Homo sapiens: one gene and its partners. The protein of the gene in region 7 purifies or fractionates together with the protein of the main gene of each other region. This does not show direct contact. Each region holds a gene or a part of one and is shown on either strand. Other genes may lie near its edges. The genes, in order: UCKL1, DSTYK, MROH1, XPO6, TBCD, EXOC6 and NPTN.

Region 1 (3,500 bases), on a different chromosome or scaffold from region 7:
ACTTCCGCCCTGGTCTGCCTCCTGGCTTTGCTGCCTCCAGCGACTTGTCCTGACGGGAAGGACCCTCCCCCCCCCCAACTGTGGGGAGGACCCTGATGGTACAAATTTGTGGGTGGGGGCAAAACAGCCTGCCTCTTGTGAGACCCAGAGCACCAGGGGGCCCTGTCCCCTCCCTAGGTCCAGGCCAGGTGGCCACCAAGCTATGGGTTCTAGGGGCCCCATCTAGCAGAGCTAGGAGCTGCAGGGCCCAGTTCTACCCCTTCCTTCATCTGGCACAAGTGCAAGACTGGGAATGCTTGGTCCTGCAGGGGAGAAGGCAGGGCCCTCAGCTCCCTCCCTCCCTCCCCATGGGAGTCTCCACAAATGCATGCCTCAGCCAGGACACCTCTCCTGTGCTGTAACCAATCACACCTTCATTTTTCTAAAGCTTTATTTATTTTATAAAATGCATAGAATAAATTATACTAGTAACATTTTAAAAATTAACATCTTTGTATTCAGCAGTCCTGGGTCAGGAGGCAGGAGGAGGGTGGTGGGGACGGGATGGCTCACTGGGCAGCTAACCCGTGTAGGCCACTTCCTCCTCGTCACTGCCATCGGGGACCGCGTCTGTCCCAAAGTAGCGGTCGCCAAAGTTCCCTGGAAAAAGGGGGGGGGGGGTCCAGTGTGGTGGGGCCTCCCAGGGCCACCCACCCTGCCCTCATGTGCGGCTGAAGGGCCCGGGCAGCCTCACCAATGCCTGGGATGATGCGGAAAAGGTCATTGACCCGCTTGTCCACCGCCGTGGTGATGATTCTCACTCGCGGAAATGCATAGGCCACTGAGTGCACGCCCATCTCTGCCATGAGCAGCGACAGCAAAAAGATCTTGTCCTCAGGCACGTCGTGGTCCTACCGAGTGTATTGGGCAGGTAAATCCCACCTCTGCCTGAACCTGCCCCGCCTACCCAGGGCTCACTCACCAGGAGCACGCGCACTGCCATCATGGCCGCCGCGCCCGTGGACACGGTGCAGTCCATGAGGATCACGTGGTCATCGCTGATGTCCTTGGGCAGCCTCAGGTAGTGGAGCTGCGGGCAGCAGGGGTCAGGCTGCAGGTGGGGCTCCCTGCGTCCCCTTGCTGTGAGCTCCCTCTGCCCCCTACCCCCGGGCTCATCACCCCGGCTGCCCCCAGGCACCTCGGGCTCCCCGGTAAGCTGGTTGGTCTGGATGAGGATGGTGCCGATGCGCACGTCTTTGCACACAGCGCGCAGCGCGGGCTCCATGGTTTCACCGGCGCGCAGAATGGACACACCGGTGATCTGCGGGGAGGGGAGGCTAAGCGCCCACATCCCGCCCCAGCAGCCTGTCCCGCGCCCAGGTGTGCCCAGGCAGGTACCTGCTTCCCCGCATAGCACTTGCCCGCATAGTCCTGCCCCTGCGGGGTCTGTACGACGCAGTCCTGTGGGGTGCAGGGTGAGGACTCCGGTGAGCGCAGGGAGCTCGCACCGGCTCCAAGACCCACCCTCCACCTCGCGGGCTACGGGCTACGAACCTGAAAGGGCAGGAAGGAGAGCGCGTGCTCGATGAGCAGCCGCATCAGTCTCTTGGAGTAGAAGATGAACTCGTCGCGACTGGTCTCCTTGTCCCTGTGGGGCCAACAGTTGAGCGGGAGCACGCGCCCGGGGCCGCCCCGTCCCCAGGTGGGCCCTCACCTGATGATGGTGTGCATGCCCCGTACCTGCGGCGTGCTCTTCAGGACGCTCAGCGTCCGGGGCAGCGGGTGGCACTGGTGTGCCGAGGCCAGCGCAGCCCTGGGGACAAACCGATGGGGAACACTCAAGAAGGGGGTCTTTTCCCAGAGCCCTCCCTCCCCACAGGACGGCTGTGCGTCACTGTGAGGGGAACACACGGGCCAGGCACAGCACGAGGTGCAGAGCGGGCCTGACTTCTGCCTGGGGCTGAGCTGGGGGGAGACGTCGCCCTACCTGAGCTGTCAGGCAAAGGCGAAAGATGGCGGCGAACAACGGGGCAAGCTCACCATCAGGCAGAAAGCTAGCGGGGTAGGCTGTGAGGGCCCCTCCCAGTGCGGGACCCCTCCTGCGCTAAGAGGAAGCAGAAGTGGGCCGGGCACAGGGCGGGCTCACACGTGCTGATAGGTGTCATACCCCAGAATGGGTAGCTTGTCCCCAGCCTCTCCCCGGGGGAACTAAAGCTTTGTGGGGTCAGGCCCCGCCCTGGCTCCTCCCCGAGGTGGTGCGCGGCCCCTCAAGAGAGGGGGGTGGGGGGCAAAGCTGGCTCAGTGTCTCTTGGCTGTCCCGTCCCGCCCCGCTGCCCAAGCCTGGGGATGGCCGGGGCAGCAGCAGGTCTAGGAGCGGGCAGGAAAAGGGCGGGGTGGAGGCAAGAAAGAGGTGGGACAGGGAGGAGGCAAAGCCGGAAAGGGGCATGACAGGGGCAGGGAATGGGGCGGGGCAGGAAAGGGGGTGATGCAGGGGCAGGAAGAGGAAAGCGACAGGCCACAGAATTGGGTGTGGCAGGGGAAGGAAAGAGGCAGGGCACGGAATTGGGTGTGGCAGGGCAGAAAAGAGGCGTGACAGCGGCAGGGAAAGGGGCGGGGCCGGGAATGGGGTGTGGCAGGGCAGAAAAGAGGCGTGACAGCGGCAGGGAAAGGGGCGGGGCCGGGAATGGGGTGTGGCAGGGCAGAAAAGAGGCGTGACAGCGGCAGGGAAAGGGGCGGGGCCGGGAATGGGGTGTGGCAGGGCAGAAAAGAGGCGTGACAGCGGCAGGGAAAGGGGCGGGGCCGGGAATGGGGTGTGGCAGGGCAGAAAAGAGGCGTGACAGCGGCAGGGAAAGGGGCGGGGCCGGGAATGGGGTGTGGCAGGGCAGAAAAGAGGCGTGACAGCGGCAGGGAAAGGGGCGGGGCCGGAAATGGGGTGTGGCAGGGCAGAAAAGAGGCGTGACAGCGGCAGGGAAAGGGGCGGGGCAGGAGCAGGAAAGAGGGCCTAGCGGGAGCAGCGGGGCAAGGGGCTACGGGAAGGCGGGTCACACAGCAGCACCACGGAGCACACTGCTCACATATCCCAACGTAGCTTCCTCTGCTTGCCAGGTGAAGAGCATGTTCAGGGAGGGAACAAGGCAGGAAACGGGGGTTTACAGAGAGAAGGAAGAGAACAAAGAGAAGGCTGCTTAGTTGGGGAGCAGGGCGTTCCCCGCAGGCCTGAGGAGGAGTGTGGGCGGTCAGGCCCCCAGCCCTGCCTGACCCTCCCTCCTGCCCCCGACCAAGGCTTCCTGGGGCTGAAGGAAGTGAGTGCAGCCACAGGCCAACACTTCCTTGGCTGACCAGACGACGGAAAATGTGTCTGGCTGCGTTCAGGTGTTTTTCCAAGTTTGAAACCCTGGAAAGTTTTTCCTCTCAGAACAAAAGCTTCAGGAGGAACCTGACGGGACAAGACCTGCGGGTTCCTAGGCCGAGGAGAGGGCCAAGCGGAGACTCATGCAGGCACCGGAAGCTGGACGGCTGGT
Region 2 (3,500 bases), on a different chromosome or scaffold from region 7:
GGGGTCTCACTTTGTTGCCCAGGCTGGTCTCAAACTCATGGCCTCAAACGATCCTTCCAACTCAACCTCCCAAAGTGCTGGAATTACAGTAATCAGCCACCACACCCAGTCCTCAACTTTCTTTTATGAATGTTAGTCTCTGATTAATAGGAACTTGGGTGTTGAAGGAACACTCAATTCTTACCCTAACAAACCTGTAGGTTTTAAGCATCACTTCAGAATGGAACTGTGCCTCTAGGTTGATGTAGTATGGTATTTGAGCAACTGAAAGAAGACCAGGGATTAACTCTAAATTTGAAATGATTGGAGTATAAGTATGGTAACAATAGTAAAACAATTTTCATGTCTATATACCATTTGTAATGCCATATGATACCAAAAATTTTTATTGTCTCACTTTCACCCACAAAAGAGTAAAGGACCCCAAAATAATATTTGCCTCTAACATTTTATAGTTCTGAATTCACTGGGGTCAGTGTAGAGAATATGTAATGTACATGATATTTTAGAATTTAAAAAGTAAGGCTGGGTGCGGTGGCTCACACCTGTAATCCCAGCACTTTGGGAGGCTGAGGTGGGTGGATCACCTGAGGTTGGGAGTTGGAGACCAGCCTGGCCAACATGGAGAAACCCCGTCTCTATTAAAAATCCAAAAAAATTAGCTGGGCATGGTGGCACATGCCTGTAATCCCAGCTGCTGGGGAAGGCTGAGGCAGGAGAATCACTTGAATGTGGGAGGTGGAGGTTGTGGTGAGCCGAAATCACGCCATTGCACTCCAGCCTGGGCAAGAAGAGCGAAACTCTGTCTCAAAAAATAAATAAATAAATACATAAATAAAGGCTTTGAGCACTTCTGAGGAAAGGCAGGGTGGAGTATTAAGAGTAGCAGAGGGAAAAGTATTTTTTTTCTTTTTTTTTTTTTTTTTTTTTTTTTTTTTTTTTTTTTTGAGACAGAGTCTCTCTGTATTGCCCAGGCTGGAGTGCAGTGGCGTGATCTTGGCTCACTGCAACCTTCACCTCCCATGTTCACGTGATTCTCCTGCTTCAGCGTCCTGAGTAGCTGGGACTATAGGCGCCTGCCACCAGGCCCAGCTAATTTTGTTTTTGTATTTTTAGTAGAGACAGGGTTTTACCGTGTTGGCCAGGCTGGTCTCAAACTCCTGACCTCAAGCGATCTGCCTGCCTTGGCCTCCCAAAGTGCTGGGATTACAGGCATGAGCCACTGTGCCCGGCATGGGAAAGTATTTTTCTTGTTTTATTATCCAGTAAAGTTCCTAGCTGTTGCAATTTGTCATAAGCCTCTCAATTTTAAGAAATTGGAGTGGGCCGGGTGCGGCGGCTCACGCCTGTAATTCCAGCACTTTGGGAGGCCGAGGCAGGTGGATCACTCAAGGTCAGGAGTTCGAGACCAGCCTGGCCAACGTGGTGAAACCCCATCTCTACTAAAAGTACAAAAAATAGCCAGGCATGATGGCGCGTGCCTGTAACCCCAGCTACTCGGGAGGCTGAGGCAGGAGAATCGCTTGAACCCAGGAGGCGGAGGTTGCAGTGAGTCGAGATCGAGCCATTGCACTCCAGCCTGGGTGTCGCAGCAAGACTCTGTCTCAAAAAAAAAAAAAAAAGATACTGGAGTGACTTAAATATGTGTTGTTGGAGTTCTGTGGTCTGTGGTGCCTTCTTTGAATCCTGGTTTCACCTCTTACTAACCAAATGATCTTGGACAAATCACAACTGTGCTGTGCCTTTATTTCCTCATCTGGAAATAGGGATTATAACAGTACTGATCTCTAGAGTTCTTGGGAGTGAATCTATGTGCATGTTTAGAACAGGACCTGGGCCGGGAGCGGTGGCTCATGCCTGTAATCCCAGCACTTTGGGAGGCCAAGGAGGGCGGATCACTTGAGGTCAGGAGTTTGAGACCAGCCTGACCCTATCTCTACTAAAAATACAAAAATTAGCCGGGCAGGGTGGCAGGTGCCTGTATGCCAGCTACTCAGGAGGCTGAGGCAGGAGAATCGCTTGAATCTGGGAGGCGGAGGTTGCAGTGAGTCGAGATTGCCCCACTGTGCTCCAGCCTGGGCGACAAAGCAAGACTCTGTCTTTAAAAAAAAAAAAAAAAGAACAGGCCAGGTGCGGTGGCTCACGCCTGTAATCCCAACACTTTGGCAGGCTGAGGCGGGTGGATCACCTGAGGTCAAGAGGTTGAGACCAGCCTGACCAACATGGAGAAACCCCATGTCTACTAAAAATACAAAATTAGCCGGGCATGGTGGTGCATGCCTGTAATCCCAGCTACTCAGGAGGCTGAGGCAGGAGAATCGCTTGAACCCGGGAGGCGGAGGTTTTGGTGAGCCGAGATTGCACCATTGCACTCTAGCCTGGGCGACAGAGCGAGACTCTGTCTCAAAAACAAAAAACTAAAAAAAAAACCAAAAAAAACCAGTGCCTGCTAAGGTGCTATGTAAGTATTAGCTATTATTCAATAAATACCTGAGTGCCTGGTATGTACTGAGCAATGTGCTGCGTATGGGGGATAAAGAGTCAAATAAAGACATTGGCCTTGGCCTTAGGCCAGTGAAGATCAGTCTTTCCCTTCTATACTTTTAAGAAAGAAAAAATAATTATAATTATCATCAATAATCATTTATGTTTGATGATGGATTAAAAAGGTCTAAGAAGACCTGAACTTGGTCCTCTAGAAAGGTATAATCTAATCTAAACCATATACGTGTGCAACACATAAAACACGTACATAAAAAAGCAGAATGCTAAGGGAGGTTATAAGCATTTTATATGAGTTATAATTCTCAGGTTTTTTTTATAGCTCTTTGCCTTTGGTGAGCTTACAGCTATGTTTCTCCAACATTCTTCACCTTCTTTTTGTCACACCTTTTAAATGTGCCAGCATTTAAAAGAAGGGGAAAAGCACTAGTGTACTTATTTAAAATAGGCATTTTCGGCTGGGCGCGGTGGCTCACTCATGTAATTCCAGCACTTTGGGAGGCTGAGGCAGGTGGATCACCTGAGGTCAGGAGCTCGAGACTAGCCTGCCAGCATGGTGAAACATCGTCTCCACTAAAATACAAAAAATTAGCTGGGCATGGCGGTGCGGGCCTATAATCCCAGCTGCTCAGGAGGCTGAGGCAGGAGAATCGCTGGAACCCAGGAGGCAGAGATTGCAGTGAGCTGAGATCATGCCAGTGCACTCCAGCTTGGGTGATAGAGTGAGACTGTGTCTCAAAAAAAAATAATAATAATAAAATAAAATAAATAGGCATTTTCCTTGGTCATCTTAGAAATTTGTATGATAAGTAAGTTTAAGTGGCAGAGTGACATTTGGGGAAGGGATGAAAAGTTGGGAAAGAGGAGATTCTTTAGAGCTTCATTTTATAGAGCTGTCATCTTTATGGGGCTTAGGGGTGGGGAGAAGCTGGGATTGTGAGGTGGAGCACAGTGACAGCAGTGCTGAGACTGGGATGGGTGTACTCTGTGGTAGTTTG
Region 3 (3,500 bases), on a different chromosome or scaffold from region 7:
ATCTCAAAAAAAAAAAAAAAAAAAAAGAAAGAAATAGATGGCCAGGCGCAGTGGCTCATGCCTGTAATCCCAGCACTTTGGGAGGCCAAGGCAGGTGGATCACTCAAGCTCAGGAGTTCAAGACCACCTGGGCAACATGGCAAAACCCCATCTCTACCAAAAGTACAAAAATCAGCTGGGCATGGTGGCACCCACCTGTAGTCCCAGCTACTCAGGAGGCTGAGGTGGAAGGACCACGTGAGCCTGGGAAACAGAGGTAGCAGTGAGCCAAGACTGCACCACTGCACTCCAGCCTGGGTGACAAAGCAACCCCTTCTCAAAAAAAAAAAAAAAAAAAAGAAAGAAAGAAAGAAAAAGAAATAGGCAAATCCCTTAAAAGACACAAGCTACAAGCTATCAAACCTCACTCACAAAGAGATAACCTAAATAGTCCCATATCTAAAAAGAAATCGAACTCATAGTAAAAAACCTTCCCATAAAACCTAGATGGTTTCCCTGGGGAATTCTACCAAACATGGAAGGAAGAAATAATACCAACTATACACAAATTCTTCCTGAAAAAATTAAAAAGAAAAGACTACTTCCCAACTAATTTTCTGAGCATTACTCTCATAACAAAACCAAAGACCTTGTAAGAAAGCTATACAGACTCACGCCTGTAATCCCAGCACTTTGGGAGGCCAAGGCGGGTGGATAACTTGAGGTCAGGAGTTTGAGACCAGCCTGGCCAACATGGTGAAGCCCTGTCTATACTAAAAATACAAAAATTAGCTGTACATGGTGGCTCAAGCCAGCACTTTGGGAGGCTGAGGCAGGCGGATCATAAGGTCAGGAGTTCGAGACCAGCCTGACCAACATGGTGAAACCCCTTCTCTACTAAAAATACAAAAAAATTAGCTGGACGTGGTGGCGCACGCCTGTAATCCCGGCTACTCAGGAGGCTGAGGCAGTAGAATCCCTTGAATGCGGGAGGCGGAGGTTGCAGTGAGCCGAGATCACGCCACTGCGCTCCAGCCTGGGCAACACAGTGAGACTCTGTCTAAAAATAATAATACTAATACAAAAATTAGCCAGGCGTGGTGGTGTGCGCCTGTAATCCCAGCTACTCAGGAGGCTGAGGCAAGAGAATTGCTTGAACCCAGGAAGCAGAGTTTGCAATGAGCCGAGATAGCACCATTGCACTCAAGCCTGGGGACAGAATGAGACTCTGTCTCAAGAAAAAAAAAAAAAAAAAAGAAATTAAACTACAAAGCAATATTCCTTATGGACACAGATGTGCAAATTCTTTTTTTTTTTTTTTTTTTTTTGAGACAGAGTCTTGCTCTGTCACCCAGGCTGGAGTGCAATGGTGCAATCTCGGCTCACTGCAACCTCTGCCTCCCACATTCAAGCGATTCTTCTGCCTCAGCCTCCTGAGTAGATGGGACTACAGGCACACACCATCACGCCTGGCTAATTTTTGTATTTTTTTAGGAGAGATGGTGTTTCACCATGTTGGCCAGGCTGGTCTCAAACCCCTGAGCTCAGGCAATCCGCCGGCCTCGGCCTCCCAAAGTGCTGGGATTATAGGTGTGAGCCACCGTGCCCAGCTGGTTTTAATATTTTTAAATTCAGCTGATATAATTCACATCACGATCATCTCAATAAATGCAGAAAAAGCATTTGTCACAATCCAACGTCCACTTATGATAAAAATTCTCAAGAAGAGAAGGGAACTACCTTAACTAGGAAGAGAAGGAAACCTGCTCAACTTTTTTTTTTTTTTTTTTTTTTTCTTTGAGACGGAGTTTCACTCTTGTTGCCCAGGCTGGAGTGCAATGGCGCAGTCTCGGCTCACCACAACCTCCACCTCCCGGGTTCAAGTGATTCTCCTGCCTCAGCCTCCAGAGTAGCTGGGATTACAGACATGCGCCCCACGCCCAGCTAATTTTGTATTTTTAGTACAGGCGGAGTTTCTCCATGTTGGTCAGGCTGGTTGCGAACTCCCAACCTCAGGTGATCCACCCGCCTCGGCCTCCCAACATGTTGGGATTACAGGCGTGAGCCACCGCGCCCGGCCTCAACTTGTTACTTAAGAAAAACTGGCCGGGTGCAGTGGCTCAGGCCTGTAATCCCAGCACTCCGGGAGGCTGAGGCAGATGGATCACTTGAGGTCACGAGTTCGAGACCAGTGTGGCCAACATGTTGAAACCCTGTCTCTACTAAAAATACAAAAATTAGCCTGAGTGGTGGTGGGCGCCTGTAGTCCCAGCTACTCAGGAGGCTGAGGCAGGAGAATCACTTGAACCCAGGAAGCAGGGGTTGCAGTGAGCTGAGATCGTGCATTCTGGCCTGGGTGACAAAGCAAGACTCCATCTCAAAAAAAAAAAAAAAAAAAGAAAAACACCTAAGAAAAACCTGTAATTAACATCATACAGTTGGTCCTTGAACAACACAAGTTTCAACTGCATGGGTTCACTTATACACAGTTTTGTGTCAATAAATATATTGGAAAACTTTTTGGAGATTTGTGACACGTTGGAAAAACTTATGGACAAACGTAGTCTAGAGATATCAAAAAAATTTAAGAAAATGTGAAATATGTCATGAATGCATAAAATATATGTAGACACTAGTCTATTTTATCATTTACTACCATGAAATATACACAAATCTGTTGTAAGAAGTTAAAATTTATCAAAATATATATGCACACTTACAGACCCTACATGCTGCCATCTGCAGTCAAGAAAAATCTAAACAAACATAAAGACGCAGTATTGAGAGGCCGGGTGCGGTGGCTCACACCTGTAATCCCAGCACTTTGGGAGGCTGAAGCAGGCGCATTAACTGAGGTCAGGAGTTCGAGACCAGCCTGACCAACATGGAGGAACCCTGTGTCTACTAAAAATACAAAATTAGGCCGGGCGTGGTGGCTCATGCCTGTAATCCCAGCACTTTAGGACGCCGAGGTGGGTGGATCACGAGGTCAGGAGTTCAAGACCAGCCTGGCTAGCATGGTGAAACCCCATCTCTGCTAAAAATACAAAAATTAGCCAGGCATGGTGGCGGGTGCCTGCAATCCCAGCTACTCGGGAGGCTGAGGCAGAGAATTGCTTGAACCCAGGAGGCAGAGGTTGCAGTGAGCTGAGATTGCACCACTGCGCTCCAGCCTGGGCCACAGAGCAAGCCATCTTAAAAAAAAGTAGCTGGGCGTGGTAGCGCATGCCTGTAATCCCAGCTACTTGGGAGGCTGAGGCAGAATTGCTTGAACCCAGGAGGCGGAGGTTGCAGTAAGCTGAGATCATGCCATTGTACACCAGCCTGGGTGACAAGAGTGAAACTCTGTCTCAAAAAAAAAAAAAAAAAAAGATGCAGTATTGAATCACAGCTACACAGAATTAAGTGTAGCACATACTGAACTACTGTGATAATTCCAAAGCACGTCTCATTGCTACTGCAGTGAGCTCAGGCAGTGAGTGTATCTGCTTAACACACCGTGGGACGCCATCACCCCCACA
Region 4 (3,500 bases), on a different chromosome or scaffold from region 7:
TGCATATGTTTTGTTTACACTATAGTCTATAAAGTGTGCAATAAGCATTATGTCTAAGAAAACAATGTACATATCTTAGTTAAAAAGTAGTTTATTGCTAAAAATGCTAACAATCATCTGAGCCTTCAGAGCGGTAATCTTTTTGCTGGTGAAGGGTCTTCCTTGAAAGTGACTGCTGCTGACTGAACAGGGTGGTGGTTGCTCAAAGTTGGGGTGGCTGTGGCAATTACTTAAAATAAGACAACAATGAAGTTTGCTGCATCGATTGACTTCCTTTCATGAAATATTTCTCTGGAGCATGCGGTGCCGTTTCATAGCATTTTGCCCACAGTAGAACTTCTTTCAAAGTTGGAGTCAGTCCTCTCAAACCCTGCTGCTGCTTCATCAACTGAGTTTATGTGTTATTCTAATCCTCTGTTATTTCAACAATGTTCACAGCATCTTCACCAGTTGATTCCATCTCAAAAACCCACTTTCTTTGGTCATTTACAAGAAGCAAGTCCCCATCTGTTCAAGCTTGATCCTGAGATTGCAGCAATTCCATCCCATCTTCAGACTCCGCCTCTAGTTCTCCTGTTATTTCCACATCTGCAGTTACTTTCTTTACTGAAGTCCTGAACCCCTTAAAGTCATCTATGAGGCTGGGAACCAACTTCTTCCAAACTCCCATTAATGCTGATATTTTGATCTGCTTCCATGAATCATGAATGTCTTTAATGGCATCTAGAATGGTGAATCCTTCCCAGAAGGTTTTCAGTTTATTTGCCCAGATCCACTGGAGGAACCACCATCTATGGCAGCTATAGTCTTATGAAACGTATTTCTGAAACAGTAAGACTTGAAAGCCAAAATTACCCCTTGACCCATGGGCTACAGAACTACAGAATGGATGTTGTGTGAGCAGCCATGGAAACTATGGAAACTAATATCTTTGAACATCTCCATCTGAGTCCTTAGGTAACCAGGTGCATTGCCAATCAGCAGATTTTGAAAGGAATCTTTTTTTCTGAGCAGGTCTCCATAATGAGCTTAAAATATTCAGTAAACCATGATGTAAACAGATGTGCTGTCATTCAGGCTTTGTTGTTCCATTTATAGAGACAGGCAAAGTAGATTCAGCATAATTCCTAAGGGCCCTAGGATTTTCAGAATGATACATGAGCACTGGCTTCAACCTGAAGTCTCCAGTTGCAGTTGCCCCCTGACAAGAGAGTTGGCCTGTCCTCTGAAGCCAGGCACTGACTCCTCCTCTCTGGCTATCCAAGTCCCAGATGGCACCTTCTTCCAGTATAAAGCTGTCTCATCTACACAGAAAATCTGTTGTTTAGTATGGCCACCTTCAGCAGTGATCTAGAACTTCTGGAGAACTTGCTGCAGCTTCTCCATCAGCACTTGCTGCTTCATCCTGGAGATGGCTTCTTTCCTTAAACCTCATGAACCAACCTGTGTTAGCTTCCAACTCTTCTTCTGTAGCTTCCTCACCTCTCTCAGCCTTCACAGAATTGAAGGGCCTGATCTGGATTTGGCTTTGGCTTAAGGGAATGTTGTGGCTAGCTTGGTCTATCCAAACCACTGAAACCTTCCTCATATCAACAACAAGGCTGTTGTACTTTCTCATCACTCATGTGTTCACTGAAGCAGAAATTTTAATCTCCTCCAAGAACTTTTCCTTTGCATTCACAACTTGGCTGTTTGGCTCAAGAGCCTTTGGCCAGGCCGGGCGCGGTGGCTCACGCCCGTAATCCCAGCACTTTGGGAGGCCAAGGCGGGCAGATCATGAGGTCAGGAGATCAAGACCATCCTGGCTAACATGGTGAAACCCCGTCTCTACAAAAAATACAAAAAAATTAGCCAGGCAAGGCGGCAGGCGCCAGTAGTCCCAGCTACTCAAGAGGCTGAGGCAGGAGAATGGCGTGAACCCGGGAGACGGAGCTTGCAGTGAGCCAAGATCACGCCACTGCACTCCAGCCCGGGCGACAGAGCGAGACTCCATCTCAACAACAACAAAAACGACAAAAAAAAAAAAAAAAGAGCCTTTGGCCTATCCTGGCTTTTGACACGCCTTCCTCACTAAGCTTAATCATTTCTAGATTTTTATTTAAAGTAAGAGACATGTGACTCTTCCTTTCACTCGAACACGTAAAGGTCATTGTAGGGTTATTAAATGGCTCAGGGAATAGGGAGGCCTAAAGACAGGAAGATGGGGAAGCCTCCAATCAGTGGAGCAGTCAGAACACACACATTTATCAATCAAGTTTGCAGTCTTTGGTTTGTGGCACTCCAAAATAATTACAATAGTAACATTAAAGATCACTGATCACAAATCGCTGTAAGATATAGTAACAAAAAAGTCTGAAATATTCTAACAATTACCAAAATGTAACACATGGAAGCACCAAATACTGTCAAAAAAATGGTGCTGACAGATTTGCTTGATGCAGGGTTGCCATAAGCCTTCAACTTGTAAAAAACACAGTCTCTGTGAAGCGCAATAAAGGGAAGTGCAATAAAATGAGGTGTGCCTGCACAACCACTGCCCAACTGTGCTTACCGCGCGAAGGAAAATGTTTCAGAGGTATCACAACTTTTTAGTCTGGAAATCTGAATGATATTTTACTTTTTCACAGTGAGCATGTATTCATGTGGAACTCAGATAACTAAAAAAGTAAAGTTGTATCTGAATGCATGTAGGCTACAACTAAAAAGGAACATGAAATAAAACAGATGTATAACAGCAGAAAGATTTATGGGTCTAACTCTGTGTCATATTTAGATTTTCTAGTAAATGGGTATAGGAACAGAAGGAGAGACAGAGAGTTAGATAAAAGGTGTAGGCTTTGCTGTTTCGAGACCTTGGTGCTGATTAGAGGTGTGATTGCATCCATGGTAGTAGAGATGAGTGTCACGAACTGCTGCGTGTTCTGCCGGTGAACTTCACTGCAATACTGTGCTAACCAGTGAGAGTAAGCCTGCAGCGCAGCCAGGGACTGAGCATGCCTGCAGAAAGAAAAGAAGATGTGATTTTAAAGGTTAAGGTGAAAATATATTAGCGTTCAACTCATTTTCATAGGAGGTAAGAATTGCATCCACTGCATTTGCTGTTCTAAGACATGGGCAACAGCATAGAAATCATTTACCGGTTCACGTAGAACCTAAAAACTAAGATATTCATCATCTAAACATTGCCACCGCTGACTAGAGCACAGAAGGCAGTTAGTCAATGTCTACTGAATCTTATTCAATCTTTCTGTGACACATGCTCACCTAAGAGAAAGGTAAATTATAAAAGCAAAATCAAAGAACTTAAGTGATCATGTGTTGACTTCAGAACTAGTACAAATTTAACATTCCTAGCTGCAGACTAAAGCGTAGACAACTACCAGGTGTGACAGCTTTATAAACAGAGCTTTGATGTCAGATTTTGGAGTTTAAGCTTCCACTGCACCACACATTCCACCTGGCTAGGGAATAACTGAGGCGGCAAAGACTATGTTTGGTTT
Region 5 (3,500 bases), on a different chromosome or scaffold from region 7:
TGGAATTCCTTTTTAGAAAAAGGAAAATGTAGTCGTGGGATGCTGGTCCTTTGTCATTTGTTGCACATTTTTCCACCCTTTTGCTTTTTTTTTTTTCTTTTTTTTTTTTTTTTTTGAGATGTAGTCTCTCTGTTGCCCAGGCTGGAGTATAGTGGCCCAATCTTGGCTCACTGCAACTTCTGCCTCCAGGGTTCAAGCGATTCTCCTGCCTCAGCCTCCAGCGTAGCTGGGATTACAGGCGTGTGCTACCACGCCTGGCTAATTTTTTGCATTTTTAGTAGAGACAGGGTTTCACCATGTTGGCCAGGCTGGTCTCAAACTCCTGACCCCCACGTGATCTGCCCACCTTGGTCTCCCAAAGTGCTGGGATTACAGGTGTGAGCCATTGTGCCCGGCCTGCTTTTGCCTTTTAATATTGTGTCTGGTGTATTTTATCTACTGAAGTTTTTTCGTGTTTGTTTTTTTAAAGAGATGGGATCTCGCTCTGTCACCCAGGCTGGAGTGTAGTGGCGCAGTCATAGCTCACTGCAGCCTTGAGCTCCTGGGATTAAGTGATCTTCTCACTTCAGCCTCCTGCAGAGCTGGGACAACAGGCACAAGCTGCCATGCCTAGTTAATTAAAAAACTTTTTTTTTTGGCCAGGCGCAGTAGCTCATGCCTCTGATCCTAGCACTTTGGGAGGCCGAGGCGGGTGGATTACAAGGTCAGGAGTTCAAGACCAGCCTGACCAACATGGTGAAACCCTGTCTCTACTAAAAATACAAAAATTAGCTGGGCATGGTGAAGCATGCCTGTAATCCCAGCTACTTGAGAGGCCGAGGCAGGAGAATTGCTTGAACTGGGACCCAGGACGCGGAGGTAGCAGTGAACGAGATCGTGCCACTGCACTCCAGCGTGGGCTACAGAGCCAGACTGTCTCAAAAAAAAAAAAATTTTGTTTTTGCAGGGTCAGGGTCACGCTGTGTTCCTCAGGCTGGTCTCGAACTTCTGGCCCCAAGCAATCCTGCCTTGGCCTCCCACAGTGCTGGGATGACAGGTGTGAGCCACTGCACCCAGTCTCTACTGAAGTTTTAGAAATATTTAGCTTGTCAAACTATCAGTTTCTTTGTGTTTGGCCTTTGGTAGTACGGTTAGAAAGTTTATTTTTCCTAATCAGTTATGTAAGCCTCATTTATTGGATGATTTAGTGGCCTCTCCCCTACTTGAAATGCCATTTTAAATCTATATTAAATATTCAAATATATTAGCCTTTGCTTTTAGATTTTTTATCCTGTTCCATTGACCTATCTGTATGCTCTTTTTTCTGGGTCATTTCGTTTGTTTGTTTTTTTTTTTTTTTTGAGATGGAGTCTCGCTCTGTCACCCAGGCTGGAGTGCAGTGGCGTGTTCTTGGCTTACTGCAACCTCCGCCTCCCAGGTTCAAGAGATTCTCCTGCCTCAGCCTCCCGAGTAGCATGTGCCACCACGCCTGGCTAATTTTTGTATTTTTAGTAGAGAACGGTTTTCATCATGTTGGCCAGGATAGTCTCGAACTCCTGACCTCAAGCAGTCTGCCCGCCTTGGCCTCCCAAAGTGCTGGAATTAGAGGCGTGAGCCACCACGCCTGGCCTGGGTCATTTTGTTTGATGTTAGTTTATATTTTGCCTGGCATCCTTTCCTCTTATTTTCTTGATGGTTTTGTAGCCCGTTCATTAATGCGGATGAACTCCGGAATTATTTTATCACTCTCCACCCTTTGGAATTCTATTAAATTCACAAATTCATGTAGGGGAGAAGTCTTTCTAAGATTTAATTTTCATGTCTAAGATCATGGTATTATGTCTCTAATTATTCACATCTTTTGTGTTCCTCAGTGAAGGTTGGTGATTTTCTTTAGATGATTCCTGGAGACTTTTTTTTAGGTTTATTTCTAGGTATGTTTTGTCTTTTATTGCTCTTGTGAAACTATTTGTTATGTGTTCTAACTAGTTATTGCTGATGTCTAGTGAAGATATGTTTTGTATACTGTTTTTGTAAATGGCAACACTGTAATGGAATATGTATGTGTAAACATACATTTCTTAACATCTTTATAGGGATATAATTACATACTATAGAGTTCACTCTTCTAAATATACATTTTAGTGTTAGTGTATTAGTGTATTACAGAGTTGTGTAACTATCACTACCACAATCTAGGCATTTTCATCATCTGAAGCAACCCAACTCCCATCAACAATTCCTTCCCATTCTCTGCTTCCGCAGTAACCACTCATCTGGCTCTGGGTTTGTGTGTATTCAGCATTTTGTGTGATGGAATCATGCAGTAGGAGGTCTTTTGGCACTGGCTTTTTTCACTTAGCATCATGTCTATGAGGTTCACTGTGTGATGAAATGTTTACTTCAATAGTTTTTCAGTCTTTTTTTTTTTTTGGAGACAAAGTCTTGCTCTGTCACCCAGGCTGGAGTGTAATGGCGTGATCTTGGCTCACTGCAACCTCCTTCTCCTGGGTTCAAGCGATTCTCCTGCCTCAGCCTCCTGAGTAGCTGGGATTACAGGCGCCACCTGTAAAATTAGCCTGGCCAATTTTTGTATTCTGAGTAGAGACAGGGTTTCACCATGATGGCCAGGCTTGTCTTGAACTCCTGACCTCAGGTGATCCACCTGCCTCGGCCTCCCAAAGTGCTGGGATTACAGGCGTGAGCCACCGTGCCCGGCCAGTTGTTTCTTCTGGGTTTTCTTAGCAGGTAAATATTATATGGTTTGTAAATAATGCTACTCTTTATCCACGATTATAAATTTTTATTCTTAGAACATTTTATTGAGTTTTAATTTTATTGAGTTTAAAATTTACCTACTATAAAATGCACCCATTTTAGTAAGATGTTTGAGTTTCGGTAAATGTATACACCCCGCGCTATCAAGATATGGAACATTTCTGTCATCCCAAGGAGTTACTTGATGTCCTTTTGCTGTCAGTCCCCTCACCCCAGCCCTAGGGAACCACTGTTGGTTAATGGTACTGTTCATTAGTTTTGCCTGTTCTAGAATCATTCAGTATGTGCTCTTTTTGTCTTCCGTTGTTAAAATAACATCTCCGGGACTTACCATTGTTGGTGTGTGTATCAGTAGTTTGTACGTTTTCTCTCGTGCTGATAAATCACAATTTGTTTCTTCTTTTTTTTTTTTGAGATGGAGTCTTGGTCTGTTGCCCAGGCTGGAGTGCGGTGGAGTGCAGTGGTGCGATCTCGGCTCACTGCAAGCTCTGCCACCCGGGTTCACGCCATTCTCCTGCCTCAGCCTCCCGAGTAGCTGGGACTACGGGTGCCCGCCAACACACCCAGCTAATTTTTTTTTTATTTTTAGTAGAGACGGGGTTTCACCTTGTTAACCAGGATGGTCTCGATCTCCTGACCTCGTGATCCGCCCGCCTCAGCCTTCCAAAGTGCTGGGGTTGTTTCTTCTTTTATCTGTTGATGGACATTTGAGTTGTTTCCGGTTTTTGGCTGTTATTAATAAT
Region 6 (3,500 bases), on a different chromosome or scaffold from region 7:
CCAATAATGGGACTGCTGGGTTGAATGGTAGTTCTTTGTGTTTGTTTTTGTTTTTGCTTTTGTTTTTATTTTGTTTTGAGACAGGAACTCACTCTGTTGCCCAGGCTGGAATGAAGTGGCACAATTATGGCTCACTGCAGCCTCGATCTCCTGGGCTCAAGTGATCCTTCCACCTCAGCCTCCCAAGTAGCTGGAACCACAGGTTCGCGCCACTGCTCTTTGCCAATTTTTGTATTTTTAGTGGAGATGAGGTTGTGCCATGTTGGTCAGGCTGGTTTTGAACTCTTGGCCTCAAGCAATCCACCCACCTCAGCCTCCCAAAGTGCTGAGATTACAGGCACAATCCACTGCGCCTGGCCCACAGATTTTTAAAAGTAGTATTTTAATAAAAAGTAAAAGGATGCAAAAATGTTAGCCTGTATCTAAGGCAGTAGTTCTCAACTGGGGATAATTTTGGTTCTCCTGCCACCACCTCCTCCCCACAAATTTGGCAATGTCTAGAAACATCTTTGGTTGTTACAGTTCAGGGGAGAGGTGCTACTTGAAACTAGTGGATAGAGGCCAAACATCCAAATGTGCAGGACAGTCTCCACGACAAAGAATTATCCACCCTAAAATGTCAATAGTGCCGAGATGGATAATCCATGGTCTACAGACAGTTTAACTGTTGTGATAATGAGGCTGTATCCAAGAAATCATTATTTACTTAAATTGAAGACCGAATGGTTAGGAGAAGAGAATTTGTTTTTTAGTGCTAGCTTAGTAATACTTAGGATGTTAAGAAACATCATATTAAAATTAGTTTAAGGTAATTTATTTCTTTGAAGACTTAAAAAATCAATGAAAATGGATAACTTAGTTATATTAAAAATTAAATTTGTTTATTATATCTAGAAAGAGCTCATATCAGTTTGTATTTTAAAAATAATTTTTAGCTATAGTTGTGTATGAAGTTTCTTTCAAAGTGACTGTCTTTTGGGGCTGGGCGCGGTGCCTGACGTCTGTAATCCCAGCACTTTGGGAGGCCAAGGTGGGAGAATTACTTGAGTCCAGGAGTTTGAGACCAGCCTGGGCAACATAGTGCAACCCTGTTTCTATAAAATATTTGAAACTAGCTGGGCATGGTGGCATGCATCTGTAGTCCCAGCTACTCAGAATGTTGAAGTGTGAGAATTGCTTGGGTCCAGGACTTTGGGGCTACAGTGAGCTATAATTGCACCACTGTACTCCAGCCTGGGTGACAAAGTGAGACCCTGGCTCAAAAACAATAATAAAAATAATAAAACAACAAAGTTACTATCCCATGATGGAGTCGGAATTTAGGAATAATTTTGTTTCCTTATACCAAGTCCTCTATGATTTTTCTGTGGTTGTTAATTGGATAAATTTAAATTATGCCATATATGAATATTCTACTTTATGGAAAATGTCCCTTTTGCAAAGTTAAATTGAAGTTTGTGATTTAATAAATATGGGTCTTTGTAGTTTATTTAAAGATATAAAATAATGATGGGGAAAATTATTTTAGTAAACTGTGTTAAATTATTTAGGATGTTAACTAACCACATTCATTATTTATTAAGTTTAATAATATCAATCTTTGTTTTTAGCTCAACAGAAATAGACGATATGCTTAGAAAATCAACAAATCTGCTGCTGACCAGAACTTTGAGTAGCTGTTTACTGAACCTTATTAGAAAACCTCATATAGGTTTGACAGAGGTAGGTTAAAAAGACACATATAGTGAAATGTTTCATTGTATGAAACAATTATTTTAAATTATTGCTGAACGTCATTCTGTAAAACTAGCTTCCTGTTTTAAATGTATTAATATAAGCAGATTTGTTTTCAAAATAAAAACACCAGTGTAAATTCCAGAAATGTGAGGATCCCAGGCACAGTGGCTCATACCTCTAATCCGAGAGCTTTGGGAGGCCAAGGCAGGAGGATTGTTTGAGGTCAGGAGTTTGAGACCAGCCTGGGCAATATAGTGAGACCCTGTTTCTACAAAAAATGAAGACTATTAGCCAGGCGTGGTAGTGTGCAACTATATTCCTAGCTACTCTGGACTTGAGCCCAGGAGGTTGAGGCTGCAGTGAGTTACAATCATACCACTGCACTACACAGCCTGGGTGACAGCAAGACCCTGTCTCTGGAAGAAAAAATAAAAAAATGAGGGAAAAGGGTTCATATGGGGAATAGTAGATAAAGATGTTAGAATATCTATTTAGATTTCTGATTGCCAGACTACAGGAAAAGTCACAATCCTAATTTTTTACTTGCTAAATGTTTAAGATTTGAAACATACTATGAAAAGTTATTTTAAAATAACTGGTATTTAGACTCTTGGTGTGTGTGTGTGTGTGTGTATATATATATATATATAAATTCATACGCAGTATTTGCAACAGGCTTTTAAAATCAGATAGTTGTATCCTATAATGCTGCAATTATGTAGAAATGGTACAGTTGCTGGAAGTAATAATCCCATTTTTAAAAATTAGGTGATTTTACATACATGTAACCTGTATTTTACTAGATATATCTTGTGTTTTCTAGCTGGTACAAATCATCATAAACACAACACACCTGGAGCAAGCTTGTAAATATCTTGAGGACTTTATAACTAACATTACAAATATTTCCCAAGAAACTGTTCATACTACAAGACTTTATGGACTTTCTACTTTCAAGGTATGTAAAAATTTGACCAAAAGTTTTCATTTCAGTCACTGTAAGCAGACGTTAAGAAATTAAAGACCGTTCTTATATATGCAAGATCTACTATATTCCTAAAAATTAAGAATAGAGGTATTCATTGTCAACAATGAGCAAGTAAATGTCAGTTTCTTTTTGGCACTGTAAACATCTTATTAACATGGAGAAAAGTATACTTATTTTCTACAGTGTATTATGCTTTGTTCATGTTTTGATGATTTATAGTAGTGCTGACTAGGTCTAACTGAATTAATATTTCACAGTTTAAAAATTAATTCTATATGAGTGTTTATTTTTGAAAATTTAAAATGTAAGACAAATTAAAAAAGGATAGATTTGTTTTCCATCCTTGATTGGTTCTGATCTGAAGAAAAATAAATATTATTACATGTCATTGAAGTCCTACCTCTTTTGCGGGTGGAAAGATTTCTGTTTGAATAATATACAGAATATACTGAGGATTAATTAATGGTTGTTTTAGGTAGAATGTAAGATTAAACAATTTCATAAGGTATTTTATTATTTGGAGTCATAGATGAGACACTGGCTTAGTCTAGTGTGTATAAATCCCCTTGAATTGAATATTTTATTAAACTAATGATAAACCATGTACTGATCACTTATCTGTAAAATGGGCTTGCTAATTTAACCTTACAGCTCTTTCTAAAAGTTTCCTATTAAAAAGAATTCTCTTTAACTACTTTTGTTATATTATCAATCACCCCCAAGATTTTATTGTAGTAACTTGCATTGTAAAAAATGAATGTACTTGTGTTTTAAA
Region 7 (3,500 bases):
GGCAAATACTGCTATGGATGTAAACAGGAATTTTTCCACTTAGTAACCTCCATTTTCAGCTAGCCCTGTTAACATCCTTGGCTTCTGGACTGTAGGAAAACAGTTCCATTTATTTCATCCTTTCCTCTGGAATGTTCTTAATTTGATGTTGGCAGATCCTGACCTCACTCCCTGCTTACTGCACAGGGGCTGGCTTGGCTTATGCAGCAGGCCTCCCAGGGGACGTTTCCAAGCCAATCAGAATGCCCTCTTTTAGTGTCTCTCTTTATACCTTCGGATACTGTCTGAATCAGTAGAAATGCTGAATGAACCCTAGGTGGGGTGGAAGGGTAAGAGAGAGTATGCTTGCACTCTGATTTTGTTTCCTATGGACCTAACTCCAAGTTTTTAAACTAAGCCTGGATTTTTTTTTTTTTTAACTCTTTCTGCCATTTCCACCTTGTCTTATGGAAGTGTAACCTCAAGCAAATTATGGGCAATTAGAGGTAGGCATCAACTTTAGTTCCTGGGCAGTTCCTAAGAGTGTTGGTTGAGGCCTGGCTTTCACCCTAGTGTTTAGTTTAATTCATCAGGGTACATTTCTCATTCTTCTGAGCTGGCTTCTAGAAGCCAGGCAATTCAACTGTATGGAGCCTGTCAAATACCATAGCTTTTCAGATTTTTCTAGGTAATGGATCTATGGGGTTATGGAGGGCACAGTCCCTCCATTAGCTGGCAGTGAGTTGGGTTGCTGGTATTGTTGGTCCCACTTCTGAGCTGACCCACAAAGTATTAATATCTCACTGTGGTGTGAAGTACAGACTGTCTTGTTCTCCTGAGGGTCTGCATTCAGGAAGAGGCTGCCTAACGCTAAACAACTGGGTTGTTTGTTTGCCATAGGCCCAGGGAAGAATAGGAGGTGGAGAAAGTCTAATCGAACCCAGGATAGAATCCTGTGTGAGAGAGAAATTTGCTACTCTTTCAGTTGAAATTTGAACTCTGAATCCCAAGAGAAGGCACCAGTAGGTCATTTAATACTTCTTGTTGAGGCTTGCAAAAGACACTGCATTTCTAACAAAGCGTTTGCCCATCCAAAAGAGAGATCCTGATTTGGCATATAAAACTACTGCCTCTTCTGGTTATCTTTCATCACTTGCCTGAGTTTAAAAAGGTAATAAATGGTTTGTGTTCTAAGGAAAGAGGCTCTTCCCAAGACCTGAGGCTTTCTCATTCCTACCAGCTGGGCCCATTGCTAAAATGCTTTCCAGTGGGCTTGCTTCTGCCTGGCCAGCACCTGGGCTGCCCCAGCTTGTAATTAGCCTGCCTTTGCTTCATAAGCTTCCCAGGGTGTGGTTCTTCTTCTAAAAGCTTGTATGAATTGCTGTACTGTCTCTTTATAGTTTAAAAATGAATCCTTTTTTGTTCTTTGCAACTCATTTGCTTTTTTCTTTTCTTTTCTTTAAATTACTATTAACACCTGTTGATTCTTTTTTTTTTTTCTGATTGGCCTGTCACTGCATTCCTGCTCCCCCTCCCTCTAGCTGGGTTTGTCAAGTCGCCCATGTCAGAAACTAAGCTCACGGGGGACGCCTTTGAGCTGTACTGTGACGTGGTCGGGAGCCCCACGCCAGAGATCCAGTGGTGGTACGCAGAAGTCAACCGGGCAGAGTCTTTCAGACAGCTGTGGGACGGTGCTCGGAAGCGCCGTGTCACCGTAAACACCGCCTACGGGTCAAACGGCGTGAGTGTGCTGAGAATAACCCGGCTCACCTTGGAGGACTCTGGGACTTACGAGTGCAGGGCCAGCAACGACCCCAAGAGGAATGACTTGAGGCAAAACCCCTCCATAACATGGATTCGAGCCCAGGCCACCATAAGCGTCCTTCAGAGTGAGTCCAGCACCCTACAGTAGTAGTACTGTAGTCATTAGAGGTGGCCCAATGACCCTTCCCTTCTGCATCCTTTCCCTCTTCCCCAGTATGATCACTCACCCCACCCCTTGTCTTCGTTTTTTTTTCAATCCCATGACCCTTCTGGTTGTAGTGTATGAAAACATCTGTGGCAACTTTTTTTCTTCTTTTCTTTGCCGTTCTCTCTGCCTCCCTTATCCCCCAACCCTTCTCTGTGTCTTTCTTCTCAGGAACAAAGAACTTGAGGAAATCCGTGACTGTCCAAAATCATCTGTGTTGGGAAGAGTTGGGGAGGGAGAACTGGGAAGCTTAAATTAAAACTCATAAAACCAGGCAGTCCAAGGAGGGTAGTGTTGAAATGGTTTTCCCTCCCCTTTGATTTTGTAGTAGGTTTCCTGCTATACTTTTGCTGATTTCTTCTCTGGTGCCTTTCTATTTTTGTTTCTCTCCCCAGTCTAACTACTTTTTATTTCTTCTGTTCTTCTGTTTGAAGCTCTCTAAGTAGCTGCCTTCACCTCTATGGTTTTAAGTTTGTGTCTGCCCAGCCTCTTCCTTTAACTGTGACTTGGTGTCATCTTGTTGTGATGGGAATGTTGCCATGGGTGCAGTGTGGTGGTGTGTTTTGGTTGTTGGGTGGCATGTAAGCTTGGATATTTTCATAGTTCCAGCTCTTTTTCTTTTCTAAAACCGTGGCATGTGCTTCTCTGATAACAGCCCTCTACTGCAGCAGTGTACTCCTCACTGGGCCTGCTAATTAGTCTCCTCTTTAAAAGCAGCAGCCTGGGACTTCCTTCTTATGTTTTGCTGTTAGGAGCCAGGTGACACTAAGCTGCAAATTATTATTTTTTTAGCCCATCACACTGTTTGGAAGTCAGAGTTGCAGTTGATTCCTGTTCACGGTTTGACTCTGATGAGTAGCTGTTGGCACAGTGTACCTTATCCCAGAGCATGGGAACTCCAGACATAGTGTGGGGACCACTCACACTGGCCTTTTCTTTGTGTCTTGAAAAAAGAGGAAACTAACTTCCAACCTGGTTTCTCATAGTGATGGGGTGAGCTGACCAGCTGGCTCAGAATCCTCTCCTTGTAGCAGGTATGCGTGAGACATATGACACCGGGACTTTTGTGGCCACTTCTCTCTCTTTCTTGAAAGTGACTTGCTACCTTATGTTGAGAAGCAGAGAGAGGGAGAAGCCACCACAGAACCAACGTTCCTGGCCAAGAAGAGTTCTGGCCCCACATCAAACCTGGTTATAATTGAGGGGACATTCACTTTTGGAAAGATCCTCTGGGTTTTTCACCTTCTCTTTGAGGACACAATGAGAGATCTATAGCCAGTTCCAGCTTAAAGAGCTGATTGATCTAGAGAAAGTAAGAATAGTAAAATCTTACTTTGATGAGGAATTTGGTAATAACATAAAGTAGTAAGACATGGGCCTTGAGTCTATATACTTAGATGGAAAATAGCAAATTAGTGTCTGTTCTTTGTAGCCACTTGAAGATCCTATGGGTAAAAAAAGAGTCCTTTGTAGGGCAGTGGTAGGAGAGGCTGCTGCAGTTGGCACTGTTGAATCAAAGAACCTGCTTCTGGAAAGAGGAAAAGAAAACCTT

What was found.
Region 1: the proteins of NPTN (region 7) and UCKL1 purify together in Homo sapiens (co-immunoprecipitation; 2 studies listed by BioGRID and IntAct, with this or other methods). This does not show direct contact.
Region 2: the proteins of NPTN (region 7) and DSTYK purify together in Homo sapiens (co-immunoprecipitation; 2 studies listed by BioGRID and IntAct, with this or other methods). This does not show direct contact.
Region 3: the proteins of NPTN (region 7) and MROH1 purify together in Homo sapiens (co-immunoprecipitation; 2 studies listed by BioGRID and IntAct, with this or other methods). This does not show direct contact.
Region 4: the proteins of NPTN (region 7) and XPO6 purify together in Homo sapiens (co-immunoprecipitation; 2 studies listed by BioGRID and IntAct, with this or other methods). This does not show direct contact.
Region 5: the proteins of NPTN (region 7) and TBCD purify together in Homo sapiens (co-immunoprecipitation; 2 studies listed by BioGRID and IntAct, with this or other methods). This does not show direct contact.
Region 6: the proteins of NPTN (region 7) and EXOC6 purify together in Homo sapiens (co-immunoprecipitation; 2 studies listed by BioGRID and IntAct, with this or other methods). This does not show direct contact.

The regions. Positions count from the first base shown.
Region 1 is NC_000020.11:63,939,417-63,942,916, forward strand, and holds the end of UCKL1 (uridine-cytidine kinase-like 1), read right to left. Parts: intron 3,311-3,500; exon of another isoform or gene 3,215-3,310; intron 3,077-3,214; coding exon of another isoform or gene 2,347-3,076; exon of another isoform or gene 1,793-2,346; coding exon 1,694-1,792; coding exon of another isoform or gene 1,628-1,693; coding exon 1,534-1,627; intron 1,441-1,533; coding exon 1,378-1,440; intron 1,301-1,377; coding exon 1,178-1,300; intron 1,070-1,177; coding exon 962-1,069; intron 891-961; coding exon 734-890; intron 640-733; coding exon 560-639; 3' UTR 413-559; downstream 1-412.
Region 2 is NC_000001.11:205,205,203-205,208,702, reverse strand, and holds part of DSTYK (dual serine/threonine and tyrosine protein kinase), read left to right. Parts: intron 1-3,500. UniProt on the Homo sapiens protein: Acts as a positive regulator of ERK phosphorylation downstream of fibroblast growth factor-receptor activation. Involved in the regulation of both caspase-dependent apoptosis and caspase-independent cell death.
Region 3 is NC_000008.11:144,154,516-144,158,015, reverse strand, and holds part of MROH1 (maestro heat-like repeat-containing protein family member 1), read right to left. Parts: intron 1-3,500. UniProt on the Homo sapiens protein: Lysosome fission factor. Recruited to lysosomes by RAB7 (RAB7A or RAB7B) at scission sites and homooligomerizes to mediate the constriction and scission of lysosomal tubules. May sever membranes by inserting amphipathic helices into one bilayer leaflet.
Region 4 is NC_000016.10:28,114,466-28,117,965, forward strand, and holds part of XPO6 (exportin-6), read right to left. Parts: intron 2,998-3,500; coding exon 2,853-2,997; intron 1-2,852. UniProt on the Homo sapiens protein: Mediates the nuclear export of actin and profilin-actin complexes in somatic cells.
Region 5 is NC_000017.11:82,758,565-82,762,064, forward strand, and holds part of TBCD (tubulin-specific chaperone D), read left to right. Parts: intron 1-3,500.
Region 6 is NC_000010.11:92,953,020-92,956,519, forward strand, and holds part of EXOC6 (exocyst complex component 6), read left to right. Parts: intron 1-1,610; coding exon 1,611-1,722; intron 1,723-2,560; coding exon 2,561-2,695; intron 2,696-3,500. UniProt on the Homo sapiens protein: Component of the exocyst complex involved in the docking of exocytic vesicles with fusion sites on the plasma membrane.
Region 7 is NC_000015.10:73,595,390-73,598,889, reverse strand, and holds part of NPTN (neuroplastin isoform b precursor), read left to right. Parts: intron 1-1,520; coding exon 1,521-1,868; intron 1,869-3,500. UniProt on the Homo sapiens protein: Probable homophilic and heterophilic cell adhesion molecule involved in long term potentiation at hippocampal excitatory synapses through activation of p38MAPK. May also regulate neurite outgrowth by activating the FGFR1 signaling pathway.